Homo sapiens: one gene and its partners. The protein of the gene in region 3 interacts with the protein of the main gene of each other region in a biochemical or structural test. Each region holds a gene or a part of one and is shown on either strand. Other genes may lie near its edges. The genes, in order: TGFB1I1, LRIF1, GIT1 and PPFIA1.

Region 1 (7,631 bases), on a different chromosome or scaffold from region 3:
CCTGGGCCACGTGTCCTACTGCTGTCTGTCTGAGGGAAGACCTGCTGTGGAGGGAATCTCTGAGCCCTGTCTTAGTCATGCCCAGAGACAGACAAAGACCTGTGCTGGCGTTGAGGGGAGGGAAGGGCTCACATTGCTTTGGTCTCCAAGGCAGGGTCTCCATCATCTGGCTTCCAGATCTTTTTTTTTTTTTTTTTTTTTGACTATTATTTTGCTTTAGATTCAGGGGGCACGTGCATGTTTGTTACACGGGTGTATTGTGTACTGGGGAGGATTGGGTTTCTAGTGAACCCATTACCCAAAGAGTGAACACTATACCCACTAGGCAATTTTCCAGCCTTTGCCCCGCACCTACCCGCCCCCCTTTTGGAGTCCCCAGTGTCTGTTTCTATCTTCATGCCCCTGTGTACCCATTGCTTAGTTCCCACTTATAACGGAGAACATGCAGTATTTGGTTTTCTGTGTCTGAGTTAGTTTACTTAGGATAATGGCCTCCAGCTCCATTCATGTTCCTGCAAAGGACGTTATTTCATTTTTTAAGGCTGTGTACTATTCCATGGTGTATATGTACCACATTTTCCTTTTTTTTTTTTAAGAGACAGGGTCTTGCTATGTTGCCCAGGCTGGTCTCAAAATCCTAAGTTCAAGCAGTTCTCCTGCCTCAGACTCCTAAAATGCTGGGATTTATAGGCACGAGCCACTGTGCCAGCCAACATTTTCTTTATTCAGTCACCCATTGATGGATACTTAGGTTGGGTCCATGACTTTGCTATTGTGAATAGTACTGCAATAAACACAATGAGTCCAGCTGTCTTTTACATGATTTCTTTTCCTGTGGGTAGATGCTCGTTAGTGGGATTTCTGAGTCAAATGATAGTTCTAGTTGTAGGTCTTTGAGAAATCTCTATGCTGTTTTCCAGAGAGGTTGAGCTAATTTACATTCCCACCAACAGTGTATAAGTATTCCTCTTTCTCCACATTCATGCCAACATCTGTTGCTCTTTTACTGTTTAATAATTGGCTTGCAGATTTTTGACTCCTCAGTGGCAGCCTGATTTTGGGGAGAGCTGCACTGGGCCTGCCAAGGTTTGCTTCTGGGCAGCTGAGGTTGGCACTTGCTGTCTCTGAGCCTCTGTGAGTGTTGGTCCAGGTCTCTGGTTTTCAGGCTATGCATTAGAACCAAGCAGTGAGCTTTGAAAAACTATTGATGCCTGGGGTCTTTTTGCTCACATTGGACTGGGCATCGGTATTTTATTTTATTTTATTTTATTTTTTGGAATCTTGTTCTGTCACCCAGGCTGGAGTGTGGTGGTACAATATTGACTCATTGCAGCCTCCGCCTCTCTGGTTCAAGCAATTCTCATGCCTCAGCCTCCCAAGTAGCTGGGATTACAGGTGCCACCATGCCCGGCTAACTTTTTTTGTATTTTTAGTAGAAATGGGGTTTCACCATGTTGGCCAGCCTGGTCTCGAACTCCTGACCTCAGGTGATCTGTCTGCCTTGGCCTCCCAAAGTGCTGGGATTACAGGCGTGAGCCACCGCGCCCAGTCAGGCCCTATCTTCAAATATAGTCACACTGAGGGTTGAACTGTGATGTATAAATGTGGGGGAGACACAAACATTCAGTCCATAACACTCCCTTTCCCCCAACCCTAGGCAATCACTAATCTACATCGTATCTCTACAGATGACCTATTCTGGACATGTCATATAAATGGAATCATACAATGTGTGATCTTTCATATCTGGCCTCTTTCATATAGCTTAATGTTATCAAGGTTCATCCACACTGTAGCATCTCATTTCTTTTTATTAGGAATAATACAGTTTCACTTTATGGATTGCTGTGGTTTGAACATGTACCCCAGAGTTCATGTGTTGGAAACTTAACCCCCAATTCAACTGTTGAGAGGTGGGAACTTTAAGAAGTGATTAGGTTATGTGGGCTCTTCCCTCATGAATGGATTAATGGCATTATTGCATGAGTAGGTTAGTTATCAAGGGAGTGGACAGCTGATAGATAAATGGATGGGTTCTGCCCCCACCCCACCCCCTCTCTTGCACTGTCTTGCCCTTCTGCTTTCTGCTGTGGGATGAGGCAGAAAGAAGGCCCTCACCAGATGCAGGGCCCTTGACCTTCGACTTCCCAACCTCTAGAACTGAAAGAAAGATATTTCTATTCTTTATAAATTATCCAGCCTTAGGCATTCTACGATGCAGCACAAAACAGACTAAGACATGGATATGCCACTTTCATTTCTTCAATCATCAGTTGACGGACATTTGGGTTGTTTCCACTCGGGCTATTATGAATAATGCTGCTATGAATACTCATGTACAAGTTTTTTTGTGGAATATGCTTTTATTTCTCTTGGTTACATATCTAGAAGGGAAATTGCTGGATCATATAACTCTATGTTTAAACATGTGAGGAACTGCCAGACCATTTTCCAAAGTTAGTGAACGATTTTACATTCCAACCAGCCATGTGTGAGGGTTCCAATCTCTCCATATCCTCACAAAAACTTGCTAATTACCTCTTTCTTTTCAGCTTTTTTTTTTTTTTTTTTTGAGTCGGAATCTCACTCTGTCACCAGGCTGGAGTGCAGTGGCACAATCTCTGCTCACTGCAACCTCTGCCTCCCGAGTTCAAGTGATTCTCCTGCCTCAGCCTCCCGAGTAGCTGGGATTACAGGTGCCTGCCACCACACCCAGCTAATTTTTGTATTTTTAGTAGAGACGGGGTTTTGCCAAGTTAACCAGGCTGGTCTCCAACTCCAGACCTCAGGTGATCCGCCCGCCTCGGCCTCCCAGAGTGTTGGGATTACAGGCGTGAACCACTGAGCCTGGCCTTTAAAATATTATCATTATTATTTGAGATGGAGTCTCGCTCTGTTGCTCAGGCTGGAGTGCAGTGGCACGATCTCAGCTCACTGCAGCCTCCACCTGCCAGGTTCAAGGGATTCTTCCGCCTCAGCCTCCCAAGTAGCTGGGACTACAGGTGCCCACCACCATGTCTGGCTAATTTTTTTGTGTGTTTTTAGTAGAGACTGTTTTCACCATGTTAGCCAGGCTGGTCTCGAACTCCTGACCTCAGGGGATCCACCCACCTCGGCCTTCCAAAGTGTTAGGATTACAGGTGTGAGCCACTGCTCCTTGCCTAATTACCTGTCTTTTTTGTTATTGCCATCCTAATAGGTATGATGTGGCATCTCATTGTAGTTTTGATTTGCATTTCTCTGGGGACTAATGATGTTGAGGATCTTTTCATGTAATCATTGGCTATTTATATAACTTCTTTGAACTGTCTATTCAGGTCGTTTGCCCATTTTTTCTTCTTTTTCTTTTTTATTCTTGACACAGGGTCTCCTCTGTTGCTCAGGAGTTCAGTGGCACAATCTCAGCTCACTGCAGCCTCTGCCTCCAGGTTTCAAGCAATTCTCCTGTCTCAGCCTCCCAAGTAGCTGGAATTACAGGCTCCCACCACCACGCACAGCTAATTTTGTGTTTTTAGTAGAGATGGGGTTTTGTCATGTTGGCCAGGCTGGTCTCGAACTCCTGACCTCAAGTGACCTGCCCGCCTTGACCTCCCAAAGTGCTAGGATTATAGGTGTGAGCCACCATGCCTGTCTCGCATTTTTAAAAAGCTCCCCAGGTTGTTCCGATTTGCTGCTGGGTTGATACTCACATTCCAGTGCTCAGATCTGTCCAGAAGAGTGGCTGCAGCACAGTTGTCTGTCCATAACTACCTCTATGGCCTCTCGTTTCCACCTCGTTTCTCAGGGTCTCAGTCCAGGGAAGGCCTTGCCACTTTGTGGCTGGAGACTGTGTCTTGCTTTCTGCTCTGAGTTCATCAGTAACTTGGGAAAGGGCTGTTTCAGAGCAGGCCTGGGCCACCTCAGTGCTGAGGAAGGGCTTTGTCTTGCAGGCTGGCTGGGGGTTGGTTGCCTGGGAGTGTTTTCCCCGAATTTGCAAGGGGCTTGCGCCCGGGTTCGAGTTTACGTGTGTCCATGACCAAGTCTTGGAGGGAAGGTCCTAGTGTAGAGTCTGTGGGTGGGTTCACTGTGTCTGTCCCCGTCCCTCAGATTTCTTTGTGTCTGGTATGTATGCCTCTTGGGGCCTCTATTTATCTGTCAGGGTCTCCGATGGGAGGGTCTCCGAACCTGAGGTCTAATTGAGCCTTAGAATATCACTCCTGCTACCAATCCAAAAATTCCGTCTGGGACAAGTCTCCCAGGAATGGCATGGGTGGGAGGGAGGCTCTTGTCTAGGACTCAGGCGCTAGCTTTGAGCGGTGTCTGTTTGGGGGCCTCAGTCCGTGTCTGTAAGTCTCCCTAGGGAGCGGCTCTGGGGCTTGGTCTGGAGAAGCCACTTCTCTCTGGCTCTGGCCTCCTGGGGCTCCCTGCAGCTGAGGCCAAGGCTGGGGTGTGGCCGCCTCCGCGGCAGGCCGGCGGGCTGGGCTCGGGTGGGCCGGGGCGCTCCCTCCTTTCCACGCCCCCACCTCGGGTTCCCCCGTTCATCGCCCCCCCATCCCCATCTCAGCGGGTCCCGGCTTCCTTACATGGTCACGGCCGGGCTTCCAGCTCCCGGACGTCCCCCGCCCCCCGCCCCCACCGGACACGGCCCCCGCCCTGTTCGCCCCGCGCCACCGGCCCGCGCCCCGCCATGGAGGACCTGGGTGAGTGGGGCCGGATCCCCGGGTCCGTGGCCCCTCACCGCTGCCCAGAGCTGCCTCCCCGCCGTCGCTCTCCCGCATCTCCCCATCCCTGTCTTCTTACTTCTGCTTTTCGCCTCTGCCCGCGCCTCCTTTCCAACTCCACGTCCCCCTTCCTGCCTCTCCCTTCCTGCCTTTCCTGGGCCGGCCGCTCCCTCCCTTCTTCCCTCGCTGTGCTCCTCCATCCCAGGCTGCGGCAGATGGAACGGGAGGTGCGGCGCCCGCGGGCGCCCGGGCGCGGGGCTCTGGGGAGGGAGGGGTTAAAGGGGCCTCGGCCCGGGGACCGGGAAAGTAGAGGGCACGGGAAAGTCTGGCATCAAGTTTTGGAGAAAAAAAGCGGGCCTGCCTGCACCAGAGTTTTGGGAGAGGAGGAGTTAAGGGCTCCTGAGCACAGTGAGGGTCAGGTCCTTGAGGCAAGGAAGAGAATAGTAACTCAGGAGTGCCTAGGCGCCCGCGAAGGCTTCAGGGTTTCACGCGGGTGCTCAGAGACGAAGACTGAGGGCAGGACTTCTGGGTTCTGGAAGTGAAAGGGCTCAAAAGACCCGGATCTGGGGATGCAGGGATGGAGAGAGGTGTCTTGTCCGGAAGGGGGACCCAGGTATCTCGTCCTCCCTGCGAAGCCTGGGGCTGGAAGGCTGTGCGCTCCACGGGAGAGAGGGGCTTCCGGCCCCTGGCGGTAGAGGGCGCTGCTCGGTAGGGGTAACTGACGCTGTACCGCAGATAAACAGCCAATCAGAAGGCAGGTCCCAGCGAAGCGCCAGTGAGGAGCCCAGGGCGGGACTCAGGGGCCTGGGAGTGGCCAGGCTGGGCGGGGCCTGTGTAGGTAGAGGGAGGAGTTAACCAGCATGGAAGAGAGAGCGTCCAATCAGAAAGCTGAGGGCCAGGCACTGGGCCAATGGAGCAATTTGGAGGGGAGCCAAATTTGGCTTGGGTGAAGAGCCCATTTTGACTGCATCAGAGAAGATGGGGAGAATAAAATAATCAGGAGGCTGGGTTTGTGCTTGGCTCCAAGCGTGAGCAACTGGGATATTCTGGTCATAAATATTCCTTGCTACCCTTCGAGCAGTGCTCTGCCTGGCTCTGGCCCTGTGACCTCTTCTCTTAATACTGGCTTCTGTCCTTCTCCAGTACTGCCCACTGGGAACCTTATCTTCTGATCTAACCGTGACCCTTGTCTCTCTCCCTGATGGCCTCTTCCTGCAGATGCCCTGCTCTCTGACCTGGAGACTACCACCTCGCACATGCCAAGGTCAGGGGCTCCCAAAGAGCGCCCTGCGGAGCCTCTCACCCCTCCCCCATCCTATGGCCACCAGCCACAGGTGAGATCGGATGTTGGGGACTGGGGCAGCCACTAGGGCCAGGCTCGGCCTGGTCTATGGGGATCTCAGCCTCAGTGGGGCAGAGTGCAGGCCTGTCATCCCACCTGTGCGTCTCCGCTCTGTAGACAGGGTCTGGGGAGTCTTCAGGAGCCTCGGGGGACAAGGACCACCTGTACAGGTGAGGGGCCTGGAAACCAGGGCATGGGGGCCAACTGAGTCTCAGGTGAGGAGGCTTGGATTCCCCACCCCTGAACCCAGGCTCCCACTCTGCTTCCCAGCACGGTATGCAAGCCTCGGTCCCCAAAGCCTGCAGCCCCGGCGGCCCCTCCATTCTCCTCTTCCAGCGGTGTCTTGGGTACCGGGCTCTGTGAGCTAGATCGGTTGCTTCAGGAACTTAATGCCACTCAGTTCAACATCACAGGTACCAGGGTGACTGAGAGAGGCCTTGATGCGATAGGGGCAGGGGAGGGAAGGGTGGGGCAGAGACTAAGAGGAATACACTTCCCAGAGTAGCAGTTAAAGGGACCTAAAGCCTCAAGTGTGAGGGTGCGTTGAGCATGGCCCTATATGTAGCGTCCTCCTCTCCTCTCTCCAGATGAAATCATGTCTCAGTTCCCATCTAGCAAGGTGGCTTCAGGAGAGCAGAAGGAGGACCAGTCTGAAGATAAGAAAAGACCCAGCCTGTGAGTTTGGCGTCGTTGTCAGGGCTGAGAGATGAGTCCTGGATATCTGAGTCACTAGAGGGAGCGTTGCTCTGGGAGGCTCTGAGATGACACAAGCATGTTCTTCACAGCCCTTCCAGCCCGTCTCCTGGCCTCCCAAAGGCTTCTGCCACCTCAGCCACTCTGGAGCTGGATAGACTGATGGCCTCACTCTCTGACTTCCGCGTTCAAAACCATGTGAGTTGGGCAGTGGGCCAGTGTCCATTTGTGGCTCCCCAACCCCTTCTAGACAATTCCACATCTGCTGCTTTGCTGACTCAATTCTCATGTCCTCCCCGCTGCAGCTTCCAGCCTCTGGGCCAACTCAGCCACCGGTGGTGAGCTCCACAAATGAGGGCTCCCCATCCCCACCAGAGCCGACTGGCAAGGGCAGCCTAGACACCATGCTGGGGCTGCTGCAGTCCGACCTCAGCCGCCGGGGTGTTCCCACCCAGGCCAAAGGCCTCTGTGGCTCCTGCAATAAACCTATTGCTGGGCAAGTAAGTGGAGCCTTGTGAGAAGGGAGGCAGAGACCTGTCACAGACCCATCTTTAGTGAGAGCTGGGCTTTATGCTGTTCCCTTTTAGTAAGTTAATCTGGGAAGTGGGTATCATTATTACTTATGTTTTATGGATGAGGAAACTGAAGCTCTGAACCACACAGCAGGTTAGTGGTAGGGTGAAAATTCCAACCATGTTACCATTTATTGTGGTCCTACTGTGTGCCAGGCACTGTGCCAGCTCCTTTACAAACCCTCATCTCATCTGATCTTCACAAAACACTCTGTGGCTCCACCCAATATCTCTCAGGCATCTACAAAGGCTCTCTCTTCCTCCGTCAGAGTCTGGACTGGGTTCACTGGTCCTTGTTTTATTGACTGAGCAGATGTGATTGAC
Region 2 (7,827 bases), on a different chromosome or scaffold from region 3:
TTTTCTTAAAATACTCTGACCTATTTCCAATAGATGAAGTCTAATCTCCTTAGCAGGGCAAACAGAACCCTTAAGAGCTATCTATCTATCCTACTTGTACAGAATCAAGCAACAAGTATCAATCATAAACCATACACGTCCTTTATTTACCAGTTCTCTGCATAAGCATATCCTGCTTTTATCTTTAACTGGATAGCTGATACTTATGTTTCCCAACTCAGCTGTTCTTGGAATCTTTCTTCCAACTCCCTTTCTCTACTCTCTTCCTTTACTACATCAACTCTACTTTCCTCCTCCTCCACCATGACTGTAAGGTTTTCCCTGGCAACAGCCCATATCCTATTATTAATCAGTCTTCCCATTTAGCACAGTCTATCACATAGATAGTAGGCACTAAATGAATGTTTTTTCATCAAATGTTTAAACTGTATTGATAGTAAGTGGTAAGCTAGGATATGAACCCAAGTCTCTATGACTTAAAAGGTTCTTTCCACTATAGCGTTCTGACTCCTGCTTTATTCTTCGACAATAAAACCCAAATCAATATAAATTAAATGCATACCATCACAAATATCTTCCAGATTTTTCCTTTGTACTCTAAGATTAAATTTGGGTTTTACATGTGATGTTCTGATGAATTAAGAGATACTTCAAACAATATACAACAATATACAATTCTGTATTATGCTACTGAAAAATTTTAAATAAGCAGTAACAGGAAATATTTAAGCTACAAACAATAAGAAAATCATAGTCATTTAAGTTATAAAAATAAATGATTTAGTACCATCAAACATGTTACCAGAAAAATAAGAAAACTAAGTTTCCAATAAACTACAAGGGCCGTTAATATTATTTACAAAATTATATTTGGATGTTTTATTACTTACAGAACAGAATGGAATCAAATACGCAACCATTAACCAAAGTAAATGTCGAAGCTTCAGAAAGTCATCTGGTAAATGTCCCAAATATATGATGTAAAACCTCAATGATTTAAATAAATACATTCAAAAATAATAAAAACAATGCATAAATCAATGAGTTAATGAACTCAAAATGACTTATGAATGTAATTTGTAATTTAAAAATCTCCAAATCCCCAAAAGGATTAGAAACTGGATAACAGAGTTAAGGGTACACACACACACACACACACACACACACACACACAAAGTAAAGTTGTTTATCTTACTTTTTGTATTTAAAAATGCAATCCTAAAACAAATTTTCTATAAATTAAGCTAAGTCAGAAGTCAGTAAGTATTCAGGTACTAAAATAAGGCTGCAGAAATTAATCATTTAAAAAGTAATTCTACTTTCTCATATGTACACAGGGCACTCTCTGCCCCTTCCCCCAAACTTCCACCACAAAATTAAAAAAAAGAAAAAAGAAAAAAACACACAAGTACACCAAAAAATGGCTCTTTTTATGATTTGAAATACAATGGTTCTATCTTGACAGTTCAACAGAATTTTGGCTCATTACTATTAGTGACCATTTCCTTTTATAATATTGCTTTTAAGGACTCACCATTACTTACGGTCTTTATTGCAATGGAGTTTTCTACTTGCAATTAAAGAAAACTACCTGCTGGGCTAAAATCTGTACAGAATTAAAGTTGTATGCTTATAATAGTAATAGTTAACATTTAAATTGTGCTTTACTATTTTCCTACACGACGTATTTTACATTATTTCATTCTCCTAATCTTTAAAATATTTCTAAGTGCTATTATTTACAGACTGGAAACAGGTACCTGGCCTCACAAATGCTAACTAGCAAAGTTGAGATTAACCCCAGGTAGCTTGATTTTCTTCAAACGAAAATCCTCTTCCATGAGTTTTGCATCTTAGTTCTTCATTTTCTTATTAGAGTCTGCAGACCCTATTTTTTCCTCATCACTTAATCTACTAACCATGTGAGAGTACAAGTGAAAATATTCTGCTTTAGCTAACATTGTTTCCAATTCATTTCCTTGTAATACAATTTAAAAAAAAAAACCCAAAAACTAAGTTACTGATCATCTATTTTCTAACTTTACAAGAATATCTTCCTTAGAAATACTGGACTCTCCTCATGCCAAATATAAATAGCCAATGAAATGGCACTTCATTACACCCTACTTCAAAAAGGCTGTTCAAAAGGACTGACTTTACACGAGGATTTCTCCAGTCTTACTTCTCTCTCTTCACATAAAACTATTACTTGAAATTTTAAATATTCGATCTCCTCATTCTAAAGCCCTTTTTCTTCAATCACACACCCTTTCTGTCTCACTATTAAAATCTATTTTCACTGAAGGTCCAGCGCCACCAGGGCTGCACTTGCTAATCCGTGCTGACTGCTGCGTTTCTGCGTGTGCGTGAGAATCTTCCAGAAGGTTTGAGTCACATAAGAGCGTCGGCCATCTTGGTTTTCATCTCCCGTGGAGATCTACTCGGTCCGCCTATTAAACTTGAGACGCTGGGGTCCCGCGGAGCCGCTGTGTCAGGCTCTAAAGAGGTTTTACATTTCCCAGAGGAAAGCGCTCTATGGGCTTTAAGCGCCGCGGAGACAAGCGCTTCCCGCCTGGGTGGCGCACTCTGCGGGCTCCAACTCCTCTCAACTACACAGCGTCCGGAAACGACGGCCGACTCCACATCCCTAAGACGGACAGAGGGGCAGCCGTGGGGAGGATTCGAAACCGGTACTTACCAACGCGAGGCGTTGCCTGAATTTTCCTCTGCGGGTTTCAGGAAGACCCTCCGTAGGTTATTTGACATTTTAGTGGGGAGAAAGGGGACACCTCATCCAGAAAAGTGGGAAGCGTGGGGCCGAGTTTCCCAATGGGGCGAGAACCAGAGCGAGGGAATGTTGGGCTGGAGTTGCCCACAGCAACTGTGAGGGGTTCGACCTTAACGGAGGGCGACAGCGGGCTCTCGAGAGGGTGTATCCCCAGGCTTCGGGACGAGGTCGCGCACCGCGCAGAAACCGGAAGGCTCCTGGCGGTGGACTGCGCCCTCACAGCCCTACGCTGAGAGAGAATCGGCGTGAGTCTCCGCCCTCAGAGCCTACGACAACTCTCCAGACTCCGCCGGAGCAGGCGCAGGGGGCGTGGCCTTGGTGGCACCACCCCCAACAGAGCCTGGTCAGTGCTGAAGACTGCGTCAGTCTGGCTCTGCCGCCCCGCCCACTGAAGCCGATAGCTGGAGCAAAGCTCGGTCGGGCGTCTTCCGGGGTCGTCACGTCCGGTTGCCAAGGTGACTGGCTCGCTAAAGCCCAACCCTTATGATGCAATCCAATGGCAAGTGATATTTGCTATCTTTTCTTCCGGATCAAGGAACAAATCGCAAAAGAAAGCTCTCCCGACACCTACGCAAAATAAAATGTTTCCGGGGTCAATCATAAATTTTCTGCTTCTGTGCTCGCCGCTAGCGTACGTTTTTCTCTCCCGTCAGTGCATTAAAAGACATCGGCGCGCTTTTTTGGAGTCATGCACTTCTGGCCTGAGAAAACTTAAAACGCCTGCCTGTGGCCAGCGATTATTGTTGCTGCTTCTCTGAAGGTTTCCCATTTACTCCTCTTTCCTGAAGCTTTGCCTCTAGACTTACTTAACTCTTTCCTCCAGCCTACGTTCATCGAAACTATCACTTATTGTCATATAGACCTTTATTTCTGAAGGGAGATCTGGGAGTTGCATCAGAACATCCATTGTATTCATTAAATCATTTATTCAGCTGTCCATTGCAGTTGATGCTCTTTATCTCACACTATTTGAGAATTTTTCCTCGCAGCACTATTAATTAGTCCCTCATCTTGACGCCATTGGCAATATACTTTCCTGGTTTTGCTCCTACCTTTTTGTCTACACCTTCTCAATCTCTTTTGAAGATATCTCCCTTTTCAAGGGAGTTCCTTTCAGCTTGATCACTGATTCTCTTATGTTTTCAAACTGTCTTGTCTCGATTCGTGGTTTTATTCATGCTCCTGGATTGAATTACCACCTCCACCCATTATTTTACCACCAAACACATGTATGTCCTTGGCACTGATTTAAGTGTTTTACAAAATTAATTTACTCCTAACAGCTAATAAAATAATTATTATATGCAGATGAAGTAACTGATGCTCAGAGAGGGTGAACAAATTTTTAGAGGTCATAGAGCTTGTGAGTGATGGAGCCAGGCTCCAAATCCAGGTTGTCTGGCTAAACACACCATGTACTACTGCATTATGCTGCCGTGTGACTCATAAATTTATGTTCCCAGTTCTGATTTCTCTGAGATCTATACCTGGATGTTCAAGTGAATTGTTGAGATATCCTTTTTGCTATTTTAAAAGCCCCTTCAAATGAAACATGTTCAAAACCACACTTATGACTTGCTTCTCTTCCCCCCACTACACGTTTTCTTTTATCAGTGCTATCTCAGAAAGAAAGAAAGAAATAACTTCCTTCCATTAAAGTTGCCTAAATCCCAGTGTCATCCTTAACACTTTCCTTTTTTTATTCCAAAATATACAATTCACCAACTTTTGCAGATTTTATCTTCTAAATATCTTACAAGTCTGCTTTATATTTCTATTACTACTACTGTAGAGCAAGCTTACTTGGTCTAGTAAAGCTTTAACGGATACCCTCATATCCACTCCTTTTTTATTTATTTATTTTTTTAGAGGGAGTCTCACTCTGTCACCCAGGCTGGAGTGCAGTGGGCAATCTCAGCTCACTGCAAGCTCCGCCTCCTGGGTTCACGCCATTCTCCTGCCTCAGCCTCCTGAGTAGCTGGGACTACAGGCGCCCGCCACCACACCCAGCTAATTTTTTGTATTTTAATTAGAGATGGGGTTTCACTGTGTTAGCCAGGATGGACTCGATCTCCTGACCTCCTGATCTCCCCGCCTCAGCCTCCCAAAGTGATGGGATTACAGGCGTGAGCCTCATATCCACTCTTGTATTCCTGTAAATGCTGCAGCCAGAGATACCATATGGAAACACAAATCTGATGGTGTCATCTCACTGCATTAAAAAAAAAAATCAGTTTCCCCATTGCTCTTATGATAAGGATCAAAATCCTTGATTCTTTTCCTTTTTTTCTTTTTCTTTTTTCTTTTCTTTTTTTCTTTTTCTTTTTTAGACAGGGTCTCACTCTGTCACCCCAGACTGGAGTACAGTGGCGTGATTTCAGCTCACTGCAATCTCCATCTCCTGGATTCAAGCGATTCTCGTGCCTCAGTCTCCCGAGTAGCTGGGATTACAGGTGCGCACTACCACGCCTGGCTCATTTTTTGTATTTTTAATAGAGACAGGGTTTCACCATGTTGGCTAGGCTGGTGTCTAACTCCTGACCGCAAATGATCTGTCTGCCTTGGCCTCCAAACGTGCTGGGATTACAGGCATGAGCTACTGTGCCCAGCCAAAATCCTTGATTCTAATCAAGATGTTGAACTAGTACAGACGGCTGACACCTGGAGAAATAAAAAAAAAAAAAGGAAGTTTAGATTTTTAGGAATTAACAGCAACAACCACCACACACACACACACACACACACACACACACACACACACACAAAAAGCAGCTGTGAAAATTTCGATCTGTAGGACATTTTCAGAACTGGTATGTGAGTGTATAGAGTGTTACAGGCTAAAGCCAAGGGCCACCACGAGAAGCAGAGGGTGGAGGCAACTATTTGAATTTTTCTCTTGTAACAGATATGATCATTAATTGTCCTTTGAAAATAAACCTGTAGCAATAGCCAAGCCCCTGGTATGGACAGGATAAAGTCAAGGCAGGAAAAACCCATGCTAAGGTAAGGCACTGATGAAAACAGATGCAGGATTACCTGCCAGTGTTGGGAAGTCACTACTCCATCCTTTCCGCAAAACCACCCTGGCTGGTATATTATAAATAGGTAACTTGACTTTTATCAGTGTGGTCTTGCACTACAATTTAAATATAACTCTTACCATGGAAATTGCCTTTTGGAGTGGAAGCTAATTGGTATGATCAGCAGTGCTTCTTTGAATTCCTTAGGACATACACTTTTCTTCTAAATTCATTGGGAAATGCAGACTGAGGCTTAAATATCTTTTTGTTGTTGTTGTTGTTGAGACAGAGTCTCGCTCTGTTGCCCAGGCTGGAGTGCAGTGGCACGATCTTGGTTCACTGCAACCTCCGCCTTTCAGGTTCAAGTGATTCTCCTGCCTCAGCCTCCTGAGTAGCTGGGACTACAGGCACGCATCACCTTGCAATTCAGTTAATAAAGACTAGTTTAAAGACATATTTAGAAATGAAATGACTGTTACTAAATTAGCATTACAAAAACAGATCAAAAATGTTAAATGTACAATCAAGTTACATGGAAAATTAAAGTAATAGAAAACTACAGTAGACCCTGCTTATTCAGTTTTACCTTCTGTAGTTTCAGTTACCCATGGTCAACCATGGTTCAAAAATATTACATGGAAAATTGCAGAAATTACCAATTCACAAGTATGAAATTGTGTGCCATTCTGGGTAGCATGATGAAATCTTGAGCTGTCCTTTTTTGCCCCACCAGGGTGTGAATCATCCCTTTCTCTAGCATATCCCCACCTGTTAGTCACTTAGGCGCCATCTTGGTTTTCAGATCCACTGTCATGGTATCACAATGTTTATGTTCAAGTAACCCTTATTTACTTAAAAATGGCCCAAAGTACAGGAGTAGTGATGCTAGCATGTTGTTCTATTTTTATTATTAGTTGTGATTAATCTCTTACTATGCTTAACTTATAAATTAAACTTTATTATAGGTATGTATGTATAAGAAAAAAAAATGTAGCCCGTATCCAGTCTGGTACTATTCATGGTTTTAAGCATTCACTGGGAGTATTGAAACATATCTCCCACAGATATACTACAGTATATCAGTGAAAATCAGAAAAAAATGAACATATTTGGGGGATGAGAGTGAAGCCAAATATGAACTAAAATAAACACACTAGATGAGATAAATAGTTGAATGCATGCAGCTGAATAAAGAATTAGGAGACTGATAGAAGAGAGTAAAGAAAATGTTGGAGGGCAGTAGGAAAGGATAAAAAGAGAGCAAATATAAAAATAAAAGTTAAAATTTGTCTAATAGAAAAGTAGAAGTTTCAATATCTGGAAAATAGGATTGCAGAAGGACAGAAATTAAAACAAATATTTTTTAAATCTAAAAACTATTTTTCCAGAATTAAAGAAAATAGAAAGATGTCAGTTAAAGCATGTCCTAAGGTATCAAGTGAGAGAAATAAGAAAAAAAAAACATGCCTTAAGAAATTAAAACTAGAATATCAAAAAGAAAAAAAAATAAAGCCCTCAGGGAGGAAAAATGTATTATTTTCTGCATACCAAATAACCATATATTTCTGCATAACAAATAACCATAAATTTAGCAGCTAAAAATAACAAATGTCAGTTAGGAGTCTAGGCACAGCTTAGTCAGGTCCTCTGCTATAGAGTCATTTACAGGGCTGCAATCAAGGTGTTGATCAGGGCTACTGTCTCATCTGAAGGCTCAACTAGAGAAAAAGCCAATTTCAAGCTCTTTTGTTGTTGGAGGGATTCAGTTCTTTGCAGCAGCTGGATTGAGGGCCTGTGTTTCTTGCTGGTTGTTGGCCAAAGGCTGCTGCCCTCAGTTCCTTGTCATGAGGGTTGCCAAAGATAAACCCAACTGGACATTAGTTAAAACATTGAAACAGATTTTATTCAGTAACTACTGATAGTAAGAGAAACAACTGAGTTCCACTTTTATTTGTGCAGAGGTGATTGGGTGTTTTAAAGGGAAAATGAGGGACCCATGAGCAGAGGCTCAAGAAAAGT
Region 3 (6,965 bases):
CTTGCTCACCAGAGATACCTACAGGACAGGCATCTTGAGGCCTTCACTCTCACCCCCAGGGTTGCCAAAGTGGAAAAGGCTGAGATAGAAGCCCATGGGGTGAGGAGAGGCCCTTGACTGAGATCGTGTGGCGAGGTGGGCCAAGCCTAAGGAAAGGGGAAGATGCACATTCTCCAGGGCTCCCTGCCCCCTTCCTCTCTTGGACTCCCCAGGCAGGCAGGAACACATACGGTGCCTGACGAGGTGGCACAAGCTGCCAGAGCAGCCATGTCATGTCCAGCTGCCTAGCAACACACTCACACTTGTCCTGTGTGCCCATGCCCGGGAGCAGAGGGAGGATGGGGCTCTCTGGGGACAGGCTGCATCTCACCTCTGACCTCCATGACCCCCCAAATTAACCAAGCACAAAAAGTCCCTGGCCCCACTCCTGTGGTTAGGACTGCAGGGCTCCTATCATAATAAAAGAAGCCTGTGACCCTGGGGTGGAGCGATACACCATGGGGCTGGCACTGGATCTGGACTCCGGACTGCTGGGTACCCTCATGCCTCTCTGCCTGAGATGCCACAGGACCCAGACCAAACATGCCGCTGCATGCCAGGGCCAGCATCCTAGGGTCCAGGTGTGGGATAGTCCCAAGCAGCCAGCCAGGGTCCTAACAAGCAGCCAAACACTCAGGGAGTGCCTGCCATGTGCTGGACACCTCGCTGGGTGCTAGGTGGGCTGATGAGTAAGACTGTCCACATCCTCCCCACCCCACCATCCTCACCTTCTCACCACCTTCCTGACCTCTATTGTGAATCAGGGGAAAGGAGGCATCTGGGGCACAAATTCCTCTGACAGATGAGGACCTGGGAGGAGGAGCTGGGCAATCCAACACATCTGATGCCCACCATTCCTCCCTGAGCCCACTGGGCATCCAGAGGCTGTGGTCGGACATTCAACGCAACATACAAAGGACAACTGCCTTGCTGGTGCTGCCCTTCACCCCTCCACCCCAGAATCAGACCACAGATTCGGAGATGGCAGCCCCCCAAAAACCATTTCTACTCCAACTTCTTTGCCTCTGAATTGAGGAAGCTGAGGACCCCACAGTGAGGAAAGTCTTGTTGGGATTACAGAGTAAGCTGGGAACAAAGGCAACACTAAGCCCCAGACTCCCCCGATTGGGCGCCTGCTAAGACTCTCCTCCACATTCCATGCCATGCTTACCCCACGGAGTTGTGGAACAGTGGGGAGACATTTATAAGGCAAGGTGCATCCTCAGCCCTGCCATCCCCAGACCTGCCTGCAGCTCGGGGAACGGAGTCACAGTTTCTTAGGGGTATGGACCCTCAACCCCAGGGCCCTCTAAACCATGATAAGCCCCTAGGAGGCCTTGGTCATAACCACCTATGGAGTATTTTGTGCCCAAGCCCTGCTAAGTCATAGTTCCCAAATACTCTAGCTTGGCACCCCCAGAACCACCAGAGCATCTGTGAGGCTCAACCGGTGGGGTCCTGGGCCTGCTCAAGGGGTGGCTGAAAGTTATGGGCCCACAAACCAGCACCCCATACTCTCACTCTTAATCATGCCCACAGCCCCGCTAGAGTTCACGGACCTCCGCAGCCTGCCCAGGGGCCTACCAGGGAGATAGCTCCTTTGCTAAAGAAAGAATGGATGTGGGCTAGAGCTTCCTTCCCAGGCCAGCTGCAGAGCCCCGTCACTGGCTGTCCTCCCTCATCAGAAGGGAGCAGCCTCTTGGATCATTACCCCTGACTTCCTCAGCAGGCCTGGGGGGTTTCACTCCAGCCCAGTCCTAACTCTGTTAGGAAAAGGAAGGGAACCACCATGTAAATACAGCCAGGAGACAGGCCAGGAAGCCAGCAGGATACGGGGAATCTCGGCACGGCCTCCCACCCATTTCTGGCCAGACTGGGCTAGGGGACAGGGAGGGGCCCGCACCCAGGATAGCTTGATGCCAAGCTCACTTTCCCAAGCAGGCCTTACCGGTGAACAGGAACAGCAGGGTCCAGCCGAGCTGTTCCCAGTCACCACCAGCAGGCCTGGGGATGCCTCCCGAGAAGACACCCGGGTCTAGACTGGCCCTGAACGCCAGGCCCGGCAAGGAGCGCTAGCCTTAGGAACCCGAGGCAGGGAGTCCTGGGAGTAGCCACCGCTCATCTGCTCCTGAGGAGACGGTATTCAGGCCCCACTGGCGCATCTGCCCGGCCCTCTGCTCCTTGCCCTCCACCACCCCGGCAGGCGTACCGACCACGCGAGCAGCAGGTGCAAGACGCGGGGGTGGCACTGAGATGACATAAAACCACACTCGCCCCCACCTCCCAAGCCCTGACGGCCTCCGCCACGGCCCTCCTGCCACCCCAGGCTGGCGCTTCCGTCGGATACAGAGATGGAGGTGGAGGAGCAGCCAGCTGCCCGCCTCCCTCAGACCGAGGAGCGGGAGGCGGCGCCGGGAACGTCCTTCCTCGCTAGTCCACGGCCTCCAGGGAGCATGGGCACCCCAGGCCGGCCCTCCCGCCAAGGGCGCAGCTCCGCAGTGGCCGAGGCGGGGGCCCAGCCTGGAGGCCGCAGCCCCCCGCCCCGCCCAGCCCTCCGGCCCCGCACAGCGCTCTTGCCAGGCCCCGGCGCCCGCCCGGCGGCGGCCTGGCTGTGCGGTCCCGCCCCCGGCCCCGCCGCGCTTACCCGGGGCGCTGCAGTCCGCACACACCTCCGCTCGCGGCCCCTTTCGGGACATCCTCAGCGGCGACGCGGCCGCAGCCCTCTGGGCCAGCGTGGGGGGCGCGGGCGGCGGGCCCGGGCGGCGGCGGCGGCCCCTGCTGCCCGGCCCGGCTCCGGCGAGGCCCCGGCGAGGCTCCGCGCGCCCGGCCAACCGTCCGCCCCGGGGCTGGCCCGGAACCCGCCGTGCCCGCCTGCCCGCTCGCCCTCGGGCGCCCTCCGCCCCGCGCCGCCCCGCCGCCGCTCGCGGCTCCTCTCTCCGCCCCCTGCGCGGCTCCCGGCCGCTTCTGCAGGAAGCGGCGCAGGCCCTGCCCACAGGGGGAGGGGCCGCACCCCCGCCCCGCCGCGCGCTGCCGGCCGCGCCCCCTAGAGAAAGGAAGCCCGGGCGCGGGCAGGAGGGGGCGGGGGCGCTTAAAGGGGCCGCGGCAGATGCCCGGCCCCGGCGGGCAGCGTGGCCTGCGGCCCTGGCCTCCGCTGCAGCGCTCGCCTGGCCCGGAGGCAATGTGAGTCACCCTCACAGCCCCCTCCCCTTCACTTTCCGCGTGGGGTGGACCGGGGGACGCTGGGCCCACGGACGGCGAGGGTGGGGATTAGGGAAGAAGGACTTGGAGGCCCAAGTCCCGCTCCAGGTCAAAGGGGCTGTGCCTTGGGGTACCCGTCTATCTCTGGTTGGGGTGAGGTGTGCGTCCCTGTCCCGTAGGTGTCCACATCTGTGTGTCCAGGGGTGTGTGTGTATGTGTCACACTCTTGCTGAATACGCCCACTGCTAACAATATGGACGCCCAGGTGCCAGAAAGGTCAGGCAGTGTATTCCCCTGCCTCCGGACTAAAAATATATCTATCTCTCCATGCATCCTTCCATCCAGAGAGGAGAGAATCTGGGCGGTTTTTAAAGACCTCCCGAGGAGTGACCACTGTGCCTGTGTGCACTCACATCCACTTGTCATCCGCCTTACACACACCCACGGTGTTTCTGGGCCACCAGAGGTGTGTGTGTCCAGAAAGGGTGCATATAACATAGAGGGGCCGTTTCAGGTGACGGCCTTTCTTCCTGGACTTCACACGACGAGGCAGGCAAAGGCAAGGCAGGTGAGGGACGTGGGTGGGCTGGGGGGCAGGGAGCCTAGGTAGAGGCCGCACATGAGCGCAGCCCCCGCACTGAGCATGCGCCCCCATACGCGTGTGCCGCGCGTGTACCCAACCCCCAATCCCTGCAGCAGCAAAAGGCCCGGGCACTCTGCTTGTGGGGAGAGGGTAGAGGTCCCCAGGGCCAGACCTGGGGGCCAGGTCAGTGGTGACAATTGAGGAGGGGTTCTCCAAGAGTCAGAGACTCCTGCTTGTTAAGATGGGGGCAGTCCTTTGGCAGGGGTGCTCAAGTTGGTCGATTATCCCAACGGTGCCAGAGCGGCAGTGATTTGTGGGTGGGCAGGCTCCTTCCCTAGGGGAGACAAGTAATGCTCATGAGTCACACCACCCGAAATACATGCAAAGCTGCCTCCATCGCCTTTTGCTGCGGCCCAGATTGACAAGTTTGTTTGAAATCGCGATCCATGGGCTTTATTTATAATTGCACCTTAAAAAAATCTTGCAGGCCTCCCCTCCCTCGACAGCCAGCCGCTCAGCTGGTGGGGCTTTTGCAAGCAACGATACCTAGCTGGTGTGTAGGGGGGAGCACCACCTGCCGCCCCGAGCTGCTCTCTCACCAGAGTCCATGGGCTTGGTGGCCTCAGCGGGAAGGGGGTAAGGGGCGGGGGGAGTGAGACGGGAGGAGTGGCCAGGCAGCCCGTGCCAGGCGCTCAGTCCACGAGCGGTGGCCGCCCGTTCACCCCCGATCGACCCCCAGCTATGGAATTTCATTTATTAAATGTCGAGGAGGCTGCTGGCAGCCCTGCCGCTTGGCTGTCTTTGTTTCTCCGCTGTGTGGGCGCGTCTCGAGCACGTGGCAGCTGAGAGCGCGGGCCGAAGCGCAAGCGACCTGGGTTCAGTGTCTACCGCCGCCTGGCAAAAAAAGAACACGGCCGCCCAGGGGACAGTTCCCCACAATCGACAACTCCCCACAATCCATCCTGAACTCCCCCTGTCCTCGGACTCCTGGGCTTTGCTGGGGAAGAAGGATGATTCACTCTGCTTACCCCTCCACCCCACTCCCCATCTCCTGGTTGGCTCAGAGACTACCTGGGAGTGGCCCTGGCGCGGACACATCGTCCAAACTTTGTTTCCCCCAGCCCCGTCACAGCCAAACTTCTGGGCCTGGGACTGGAGATAAAAGGGTTTCTGGATTCCCCCGTGGAGATGTCACCACCCCAGGAAGCAGGACTGCTACAGTGGAATCACACACAAGGTTCGAAAAACAATTTAATAAGGAAATGCACAGGCATGCTCCCGGCCACTCCTAGATGCCCCTCAACCGCGCCAGCCCCCTCCCCTGCACTGGCTGCAGCCACGACACTCTGCTGACCCCTGGTGGTGCAGGCGGGCAGCGGTCCCGGGCCCCCGGAGACGCCAGCTGGCTCCTCCCAGGCGGGAGAAAGGGGCGAGGCAGCCCGCTCCTCCCTCATCTCTTCCCGCTGGGGCCTGGCACCACAGGGTGTGGAGGAGGAAGGAGGGAAGACCACACAAAGAAACCTGAGAGAGTTTGCAAGCTTTTGCTGGCACCTCCCACACAAACACTTCTTGGATTGTTGTTTTAAGTAGGGCCGGTGTGGAATCCCTTATTCCTGCCTTGTTCTGAGGTGGGCTCAAGAAGGCACCGTGCCTGGTCCCGCCACCTGTCTCGGCCCGCCTGGTTGGGGGAGGGAGGCGCTGTTTCCAGGGCAGTCATTATCCTTAGCTCACCCCAGGAGGTAGTATCTAGATTCTCATTTTGAAGGGGAGTGGACCGAGAAAGTCGGAAAAATTAAGCAGTTTGCTCTTTTAAGGTCAGGCAGTTGGAGCTATTCGAACTCTGGTCTCTCTGACATCACAGTCCCCTCCCTCCAGGGACTGGTCCAAGCCTCTTGGTCCTTCCAGGCCTTGCAATTGGCGCTTGAGAGGCCAATTCAACTTTTACCACACCCTCTGCAGGGACCATTCTGGAAGTACCTCTTCACCCTGGGGTCATTCAGGAAGGAGACAGTCTCTGGAATCAGTCACTTCCCTTCCTGAAGGGCCAGCTGGGTGGAGGAACGGAGCTGCCACCTGCTGCTTTTTCTGTCCAACCTCACTCTGGTTCTTGCTGGGGACAGTGTGCGGGGGGAAAGGGACCATCTTTCCCGCGTTACTGGACATTCTGTTTCCAATGACATGTGTGGAAGATGGAGTTTAATTTTCTAACAGGGCAGGGAAGACTCCTCAGAAATGTTCCAGGGGCCAGACCCCTGGCTGCTCCAATGACCCTTGGTACTGATGCCCCACACCTTTCTCAGGAGTTCCCAATCAGACGCTCTCTTCTGGGAATCCGGATCCTTCTTCATGGCCCCTGGGACCCAAGCTCAATTCTGAAGACCACACCTCCACCCCGTCTCCCAAACGCTCGACCTAGGCCCGTGCCCCCCCACTTCCCCAGCAAAAGGCAAAATGCCAGCGGGGGAGGTGCGTCCCAGCCCACCTGGCGTCAGGGCCCCGCCCGCGTCTGGGCCAGGCCTGACTCCCCGCCCACTCTCCCACGAGATCCGGGGACAGTGCAGACCCTCTTCGGCCACCTGCCACCCCCAGTTTCACGAGGCGGACTACAAACCCCATGATGCCGCGGGGCTGAGCTGACAAGCTCTACCCGGGGCGCCTGGTCCCCTTCCTCTCTCCCCATCATCCCCACATCCCCGTATCCCGCGCCGGCCGCTCGGGCTGAGGGCCGGGCTATGCAGCTGTGGGGACCCGGGGGCTGCGGGCGCGCGTCCCTGCGGCGGCGTCCCCGGGGCCCGCGTCCCGTGCGCCCCCGCGCCCGCTGCGGGCGCCTGCTCCCTCCGCCGAGCGGCGTCTTTGTGTGCGGGGGTGTGGGAGGCGAGCGCGAGTCCGCGCAGCGCCGCCGAGTGCCCGCTCCCTCCCAGGGCGGGTGGGGGCCTCTCCGCGCCGCCCGCCGCCGCCGCCTCGCGAGGACGCCCGTCGCCCGCGCCGCCCGCACCGCGCCGGGCGCGCCGCCCCCGCCCGCCGCCGCTCGCACATGCCCGAGCCGCAGCCCCGCGAGCAGGCAGCGCCGGCCCCCCGCCCCGCGGCCCCGGGCCCCGGCTCCGGCGCCGTCCCTCCTCCCCGGCCGGGCGCCGCGGCCCCGGCA
Region 4 (6,229 bases), on a different chromosome or scaffold from region 3:
CCCAGCCTGTCAGCGTGTCGCCTCCCCTCTGCCACCCTGGGCTGCTTCACAACTCAGGACCGGATGTGAGCTATTAGGGAACCAGGCTTCCTGATTTCCAGAGGCCATCAGTGTGGAAGGGTGCAGGCCTGGGAGCCACCTTTGTGAGCAGGCAGGGAGAGCAGGTGGGAGTGTGAAGCCAGCACCGAGGAAGGAAGCAGAGCTGGGAAACGGTGTTAAGGGACATGCGTGCATGCGCGCGGTCCACGGCCTAGGCTCTGCCTTTGGGCCCTACCCACCGACTGTGTATGTGAGCCCCCACATTTGCATTTAACAATTTAACACCAGGCACCTGTCTCCTGCAGTGATGCAGGCTCGGGACCTCCAGAGCAGCGGGCAGGATGACGCCCTGAACCTGCACTTCATCTCCTGGCTGCTTTATTCTGTCAATTGACTTCTGTAATACAATTTCCATATGGTGACACTGCCTTCCAAAACAGTTAGAGCTTATTCTCAGTATTCTTCATTGGCAGTGGAAAATGCTTCAGTACTTTATTGAAAGAAAGCAATAAATAATACTGTGATAAAAATAGTTCAAAAGTAGACTGTACATACTTTGTTACATAATCAGGAAGTTGACAAAAGATTAATAGAAAAACAGAACAGTAACAATGAATTGTACAAGTAAATTAAAAGCAGAAACCAACTGAAAAGACAGGCTGCCTCTGTCTCTGGATCTGCTGCACAATAAATACCACGCCATGGTCTGACACACTTTGCTGGCTTGTTAATATGCCATTTAAAAAGTAAAAGCCACATCTGCAACTTACACAATCCAAAATGGCTAGAGCATCAAAGTCTAAAAATGTCCCACTAGGTTCGTTCTTTAAACATGTTTACAAACAAATGTAAAAAGATGATTTACATAAGAAAAATAAGGCCTTTATTAGAGCTGCACTGCACTGCTTTCTGGGTCTCCTGCCTTCATCCACTGTGTGCGCCGACTTGCAGGATGAGAGCGTGGTGCTTGGTGCTGGCCCTAAGGGGAGCCACATGGGTGTCTCTCCACCCGCTCCCAAGGAGCAGAGGCAGGGAAGAGGGTGCAGGGGCTAGACTGGTCCCCAGGTTACCCCATCCCGAGTCTCTCCAGCTGAGAGAACTGCTCCCAGCTCACAGTCTCAGCCACTGAAGACAAGCTCCCCAAATCCAGAGACTAGGCTAGGAAAGCGTTAACCAGTGCTAGGGGCTTCTCATAGTGTTGTGATAGTGTTTTCAGTCCACATCTTATTAGGAGCTGATATTTAACACCAGCCATTTTAAATCTGTTCATGCTGCAGAATAAAGCATCTCTTGCTAGAAAAAGTACAGTTAAGGTCAGTCATGAAAATACAACAATTGCTTGAAATTAGGTATGCTTATTTCAGGATGATTGCTGTAGAGCTAGGCTGCGTCCGTAAAGGATAATGCACATGGCTTCTGTCATAATTTTATAAACGTAAAATCCTTTGTCATGGTTTATCATTAAAAAATTAATGATAATTACAATAAATGCATAATTTACAAAAGCCCTCTATTCATAGGATTTATACATACAAGCATTACAGTACATTCATTTGAAAGACTAAAATTAGGTATAAGAACATGATTTGAAAGGATATTTATAGCCTGGATATACATGAAAAAGTAAGTAACTATATAAATGAAGAGTCATAAGTTTACATAAATATAAGAAACATTAAATTCTAAAATATTTTCTCTATGGTATTCATGAATTTTTCACTAATTAAAAACTCTGTAATAAAATATCTTAGGGTCCATATAACAAGTATTAACAAGATTAAAGATTCCACTGGATTCCAAAATGTAGTCTTTGTTGGATTCAAATGCTGCATAATCATCTGTAGAAGTAGTGTGGGTAAACTGGAAAATAAACACAAACAAAAAACCACTCAGTACAGGCCGGGCCATACTGACGAACGGGAACTTCTGATGCTGGGGCCCAAACGTCCCCCCGACACTGACCCCTCCCCTCCAGGACCCCTCACTTTCTGTGCCGTAGCTGCTCTGAGAATCACTGGCTAGAACATCAAGGGCTATGCACATCAATGAGACAGCTCCTTGGCTGACTTCATTTTGGCTTACGTCTCCATGTTACCAATTACAAATAAAAGATGAACAAACCAGTCAAATATTCCAACGGAGACCTTAAAATTGCTTAGAACAGCAAGGAGAGGGCGGGCCACTCACCAGCCAGAGTCCGCAGTTTTAAGAACCAGTCTCTCCAAACTGAAAGGCTATTAGTGTCACACTTAGTATAATATATAATTAACCACAAAACTTTGGGCTTGTTTCATTCAAGAATGTGTATTTAAAACAAAGCAAGCTTAGGAATCACAGCAATGTGCATAACGACGTCAGGAGGAGAGACTCTCCCCTGACGCTCTCTGCCATGCTCTGCTCTCCTCCCCACTCCACCCCCATGACATCCACAGACAATTAAAATGAGTCAGCATTTTCAGGTTTAAGGAAAAGGTGAAAATACATTTTTTTCCTTAAAAAAAGAGGACACACTAACCTCTTTATGATCAATTGTAACAACAAAATGATCTTAATGGGTACGGAGAGCTTGTGTCTATATATATTTTAAATTCCCCAAAAACTGCACTGGCTTTCATGGTCCACACCCCTAGTCTGGCACTGCAGCTCCGATGACTCCTGCTGTGCCTCTGAGCCATCTCTAGGGGTTGTGGTGCTCTCTACTCACCAACAGGAGACTTTAGCAGGAGTAAGTCCTGACTGTAGCAGAATCCAACCTCTGTGTTCCTGATACATTGCCTGTTTCAACAGCCACGAGAGGAAGCGTGCAAACACAGCGTGCAGTTAGTCTTAGAACATCACATGAGGGCACAAGTAGACACACATCTTCACACCTACAGCAGTGCCTACGGAGGGACCTGAGGGGAGCTGCCTGAGTGGGCGGGATGGAGCCAGAGAGATCCAAGTGTCACCCAGTGGTGGCTCTCCCCAGCTCCCAAAGAGCCCCGGGAGACTCTGGAACACTACTCCGAAATACCAAGCACCAAATGGTACAGTAACAATTTCAAAATGTACATCTGCATAAATGACCCCTACTTAGAGTGATCCCTTTATCTCTTACTAAACTCTGCATTCATAGACCAATGGGGCTTTCTCCCTGCCCTAAGTGCTCCATCTCTAACACTGGTATGAAGGAAACACCAAGCGGCACTGCTGATGCTGCCCAGCCCCACTGAGCGCAGAGGCCAACGACGTCGGGTACAAGACCAGTCTAAGAGGAGGGAGAGAACCTTGCTACCCAGCACTAGCTGGGTGTCTGGGAAGCCGGTGCCCTTTTCTCCTGGGGAGGAGCAGAGCAGGTGCAGAGATCTGGCTGCAGGGGTGGGGCGTTGGCCAGGGAGTGGGGTGAAAGCTGATCTAAAAACTGAAGCCCAGTCTCAGTTCCTACCAGAAATATTAATCATAGAGACCACAGATTTTGGTTCTTGTTCAAGAAACACAGTGTGGCCATAAGTAAGCCCGATTTCCATTAACAACTGGGATTTTAAGTTTTTGCAAATCGGAAGCAGGTACTGGCTGCTCCCGGTTATGTTTTTTGTTTTCCCACAGGTATACCAGGAACACTTAATCAACATCCTGCATGGTTCCAGCAAAGACATTAAGACAGTTGGGACTGTTGGTGAGGACAGATGATCTTCACAAACCCTCTGACTCTTAAGAACCTGGGAGACCTGCTGGAGTTTACCCCACATTCCCTTAATTAAAAAGCCATTAAAATAGTCAACTTTGCTGGGCACGGTGGCTCGCGTCTGTAATTCCAGCAATTTGGGAGGTCAAGGCAGGAGGATTGCTTGAGCCCAAGAGTTAAGACCAGCCTGGGCAACATGGTGAGAGCCCATCTCTACAAAAAATTCAAAAAATTAGCAAGGCATGGGACCACACCTGTGGTCCCAGCTACTTGGGAGGCTGAGGTTGCAGTAAGCCGAGACTGAGCCACTGCACTCCAACCTGGGCAACAGAGTGAGACCCTGTCTCAATAATAATAATAATCCCTTTAGCAGGCTTGTGCCTGAGTTATTTAATGTAAGGGTAAAAAGTCTTCTTTATAATAAATTCCCTATACCTTTTAGGTTTACTTTTTTTTTTTTTTTGAGACAGAGTTTTGCTCTTGTCGCCCAGGCTGGAGTACAGTGGCATGATTTCGGCTCACTGCAACCTCTGCCTCCCAGGTTCAAGCCATTCTCCTGCCTCAGCCTCCTAAGTAGCTGGGATTATTGGCATGTGTCACCATGCCTGGCAAATTTTTTCTTTTGAGACAGTCCTGCTCTGTCGCCCAGGCTGGAGTGCAGTGGTGTGATCTTGGCTCACCACAAGCTCCGCCTCCTGGGTTCATGCCATTCTCCTGCCCCAGCCTCCCGAGTAGCTGGTACTACAGGCGCCTGCCACCGTGCCCAGCTAATTTTTTTTTTTTTTTTGTATTTTTAGTAGAGATGGAGTTTCACCGTGTTAGCCAGGATGGTCTTGATCTCCTGACCTCGTGATCCTCCCGCCTTGGCCTCCCAAAGTGCTGGGATTACAGGCGTGAGCCACCGAGCCCGGCCGATTTTTTTGTATTTTTACTAGAGACAGGGTTTCACCACGTTGGCCAGGCTGGTCTCACCACGTTGGCCAGGCTGGTCTCGAACTCCTGACCTCAGCTGATCCACCCACCTCAGCCTCCCAAAGTGCTGGGATTACAGGCGTGAGCCACCGCGCCCGGCCTAGGTTTACTTTTCATCCATCCAAACTCTCATTCTTAATATTCCTGTTAACATTTAACAAGGGAGATGTGATTTATCAGAAGGAAAACTGAAATTGAAGCCACAAGTAAAACAAGAAAGCACTCGTGGACTCCAGGTGACAGAGCTTGAGCTGAAGGCCAAGTCACAGTTCTGCTTTCTAAGAATTATATGCATGACTCTTGGAAGAAAAATGCTAATTTGTAAAAAGTTCCTAGTTAAAAGATATACTGGGTTTTCCCCCTTGAGTATATTATCAAATTCTGGCAAACAATAAATAAATAATACAGCTTTTTACTAAAAATGCCACAAAGTAAGCTATTCTCACCCAAAGCGTCCAGCTTAACTAAGGTTTTATTTAAATGTACTTTTCTTTTTATTTTTATACAGGTGATAGAGAACAAAATTTATGAACCTACGTACGGGAGGGACTGATGACAAAAAAAATTGGCAAAAACCCCATTCGCACAGTTTTCAATTATTATTTTTTTTTTTTTAGAGATGGGGTCTCACTGTGTTGCCCAGGCTAGTCTCAAACTTCAGCTCAAGTGATTCTCCTGCCTCTCAGCCTATCAAAGTGCTAGGATTACTGGTATAAGCCACCATGCTTGGCCCCTAATTAGCACTTAAAAAAAAATTTTTTTTTTTTTTGAGACAGAGTCTCAGTCTGTCATCAAGGCTAGAGTGCAGCGGCACAATCTCGGCTCACTGCACCCTCTGCCTCCCAGGTCCAAATGATTCTTGTGCCTTAGCCTCCCAAGTAGCTGGGATTACAAGCATGTGCCACCACACCTGGCTAATTTTTGTATTTTTTTTTTGTAGAGACGGGGTTTCGCCATGTTGGTCAGGCTGGTCTCAAACTCCTGGCCTCAAGGATTAGCACAGTTTTTAATGCCACTTCCTTTCCTCCAGTCTGCTCACTGGCCTCAGAAGTGAGCATGAGTGACCTGTGTGTAGCACAGGGGCTGCCAAACAGCCCCGACTGACACGGGCTCAGAACTTCACCAGCTTAATGAATGAGGCATTCAATCATCGCAACTACTCTATGAGGAAGACACTACCATGACGACCATTTTACAGATGGGGAGACCGAGGCCAGGGTAGTTAAATGACTTGTTCAGGGTCATGCACCTCCTAGTGGCAGAGCTGGAGTCAAACCTAGGCAGCCTGGCTCTTCAACCTGTGCACTGCCTTTCATTAGATGAGTACAAGGGCAGAGTTGAGAGACCTGTAAGGAAGCCATGGTCAACTGTTAACCTCAAATCAAAGTGGCCGTCTAAGGGAAAATCCCAAACTGCATGTGAAATCATGGCAGTGATGCTCTCTCTCTGGCTGGTATAGTCAATAGCTGCCTCGCTCCACTGGGGACTTCTTGGAGGTTCACCTTCCTCCCTTCCCTGCCCTCTAATGGGTAGACATGTGACTGCACGGAACAG

Evidence for each region.
Region 1: the proteins of GIT1 (region 3) and TGFB1I1 form a complex in vitro, tested with the Homo sapiens proteins (one study listed by BioGRID).
Region 2: the proteins of GIT1 (region 3) and LRIF1 form a complex in vitro, tested with the Homo sapiens proteins (one study listed by BioGRID).
Region 4: the proteins of GIT1 (region 3) and PPFIA1 form a complex in vitro, tested with the Homo sapiens proteins (2 studies listed by BioGRID).

The regions. Positions count from the first base shown.
Region 1 is NC_000016.10:31,467,523-31,475,153, forward strand, and holds the start of TGFB1I1 (transforming growth factor beta-1-induced transcript 1 protein), read left to right. Parts: upstream 1-4,629; 5' UTR 4,630-4,666; coding exon 4,667-4,679; intron 4,680-4,685; exon of another isoform or gene 4,686-4,701; intron 4,702-4,880; exon of another isoform or gene 4,881-4,927; intron 4,928-5,682; exon of another isoform or gene 5,683-5,728; intron 5,729-5,918; coding exon 5,919-6,034; intron 6,035-6,159; coding exon 6,160-6,212; intron 6,213-6,312; coding exon 6,313-6,455; intron 6,456-6,629; coding exon 6,630-6,717; intron 6,718-6,827; coding exon 6,828-6,933; intron 6,934-7,040; coding exon 7,041-7,235; intron 7,236-7,631. UniProt on the Homo sapiens protein: Functions as a molecular adapter coordinating multiple protein-protein interactions at the focal adhesion complex and in the nucleus. Links various intracellular signaling modules to plasma membrane receptors and regulates the Wnt and TGFB signaling pathways.
Region 2 is NC_000001.11:110,960,923-110,968,749, forward strand, and holds the start of LRIF1 (ligand-dependent nuclear receptor-interacting factor 1), read right to left. Parts: upstream 3,001-7,827; 5' UTR 2,767-3,000; coding exon 2,699-2,766; intron 1-2,698. UniProt on the Homo sapiens protein: Together with SMCHD1, involved in chromosome X inactivation in females by promoting the compaction of heterochromatin.
Region 3 is NC_000017.11:29,586,644-29,593,608, forward strand, and holds the start of GIT1 (ARF GTPase-activating protein GIT1), read right to left. Parts: upstream 3,006-6,965; 5' UTR 2,736-3,005; coding exon 2,684-2,735; intron 1-2,683. Other genes in the region: ANKRD13B (ankyrin repeat domain-containing protein 13B), read left to right, coding at 6,553-6,965. UniProt on the Homo sapiens protein: GTPase-activating protein for ADP ribosylation factor family members, including ARF1.
Region 4 is NC_000011.10:70,378,673-70,384,901, reverse strand, and holds the end of PPFIA1 (liprin-alpha-1), read right to left. Parts: intron 2,815-6,229; coding exon 2,756-2,814; 3' UTR 2,744-2,755; intron 1,900-2,743; coding exon of another isoform or gene 1,874-1,899; 3' UTR 506-1,873; downstream 1-505. UniProt on the Homo sapiens protein: May regulate the disassembly of focal adhesions. May localize receptor-like tyrosine phosphatases type 2A at specific sites on the plasma membrane, possibly regulating their interaction with the extracellular environment and their association with substrates.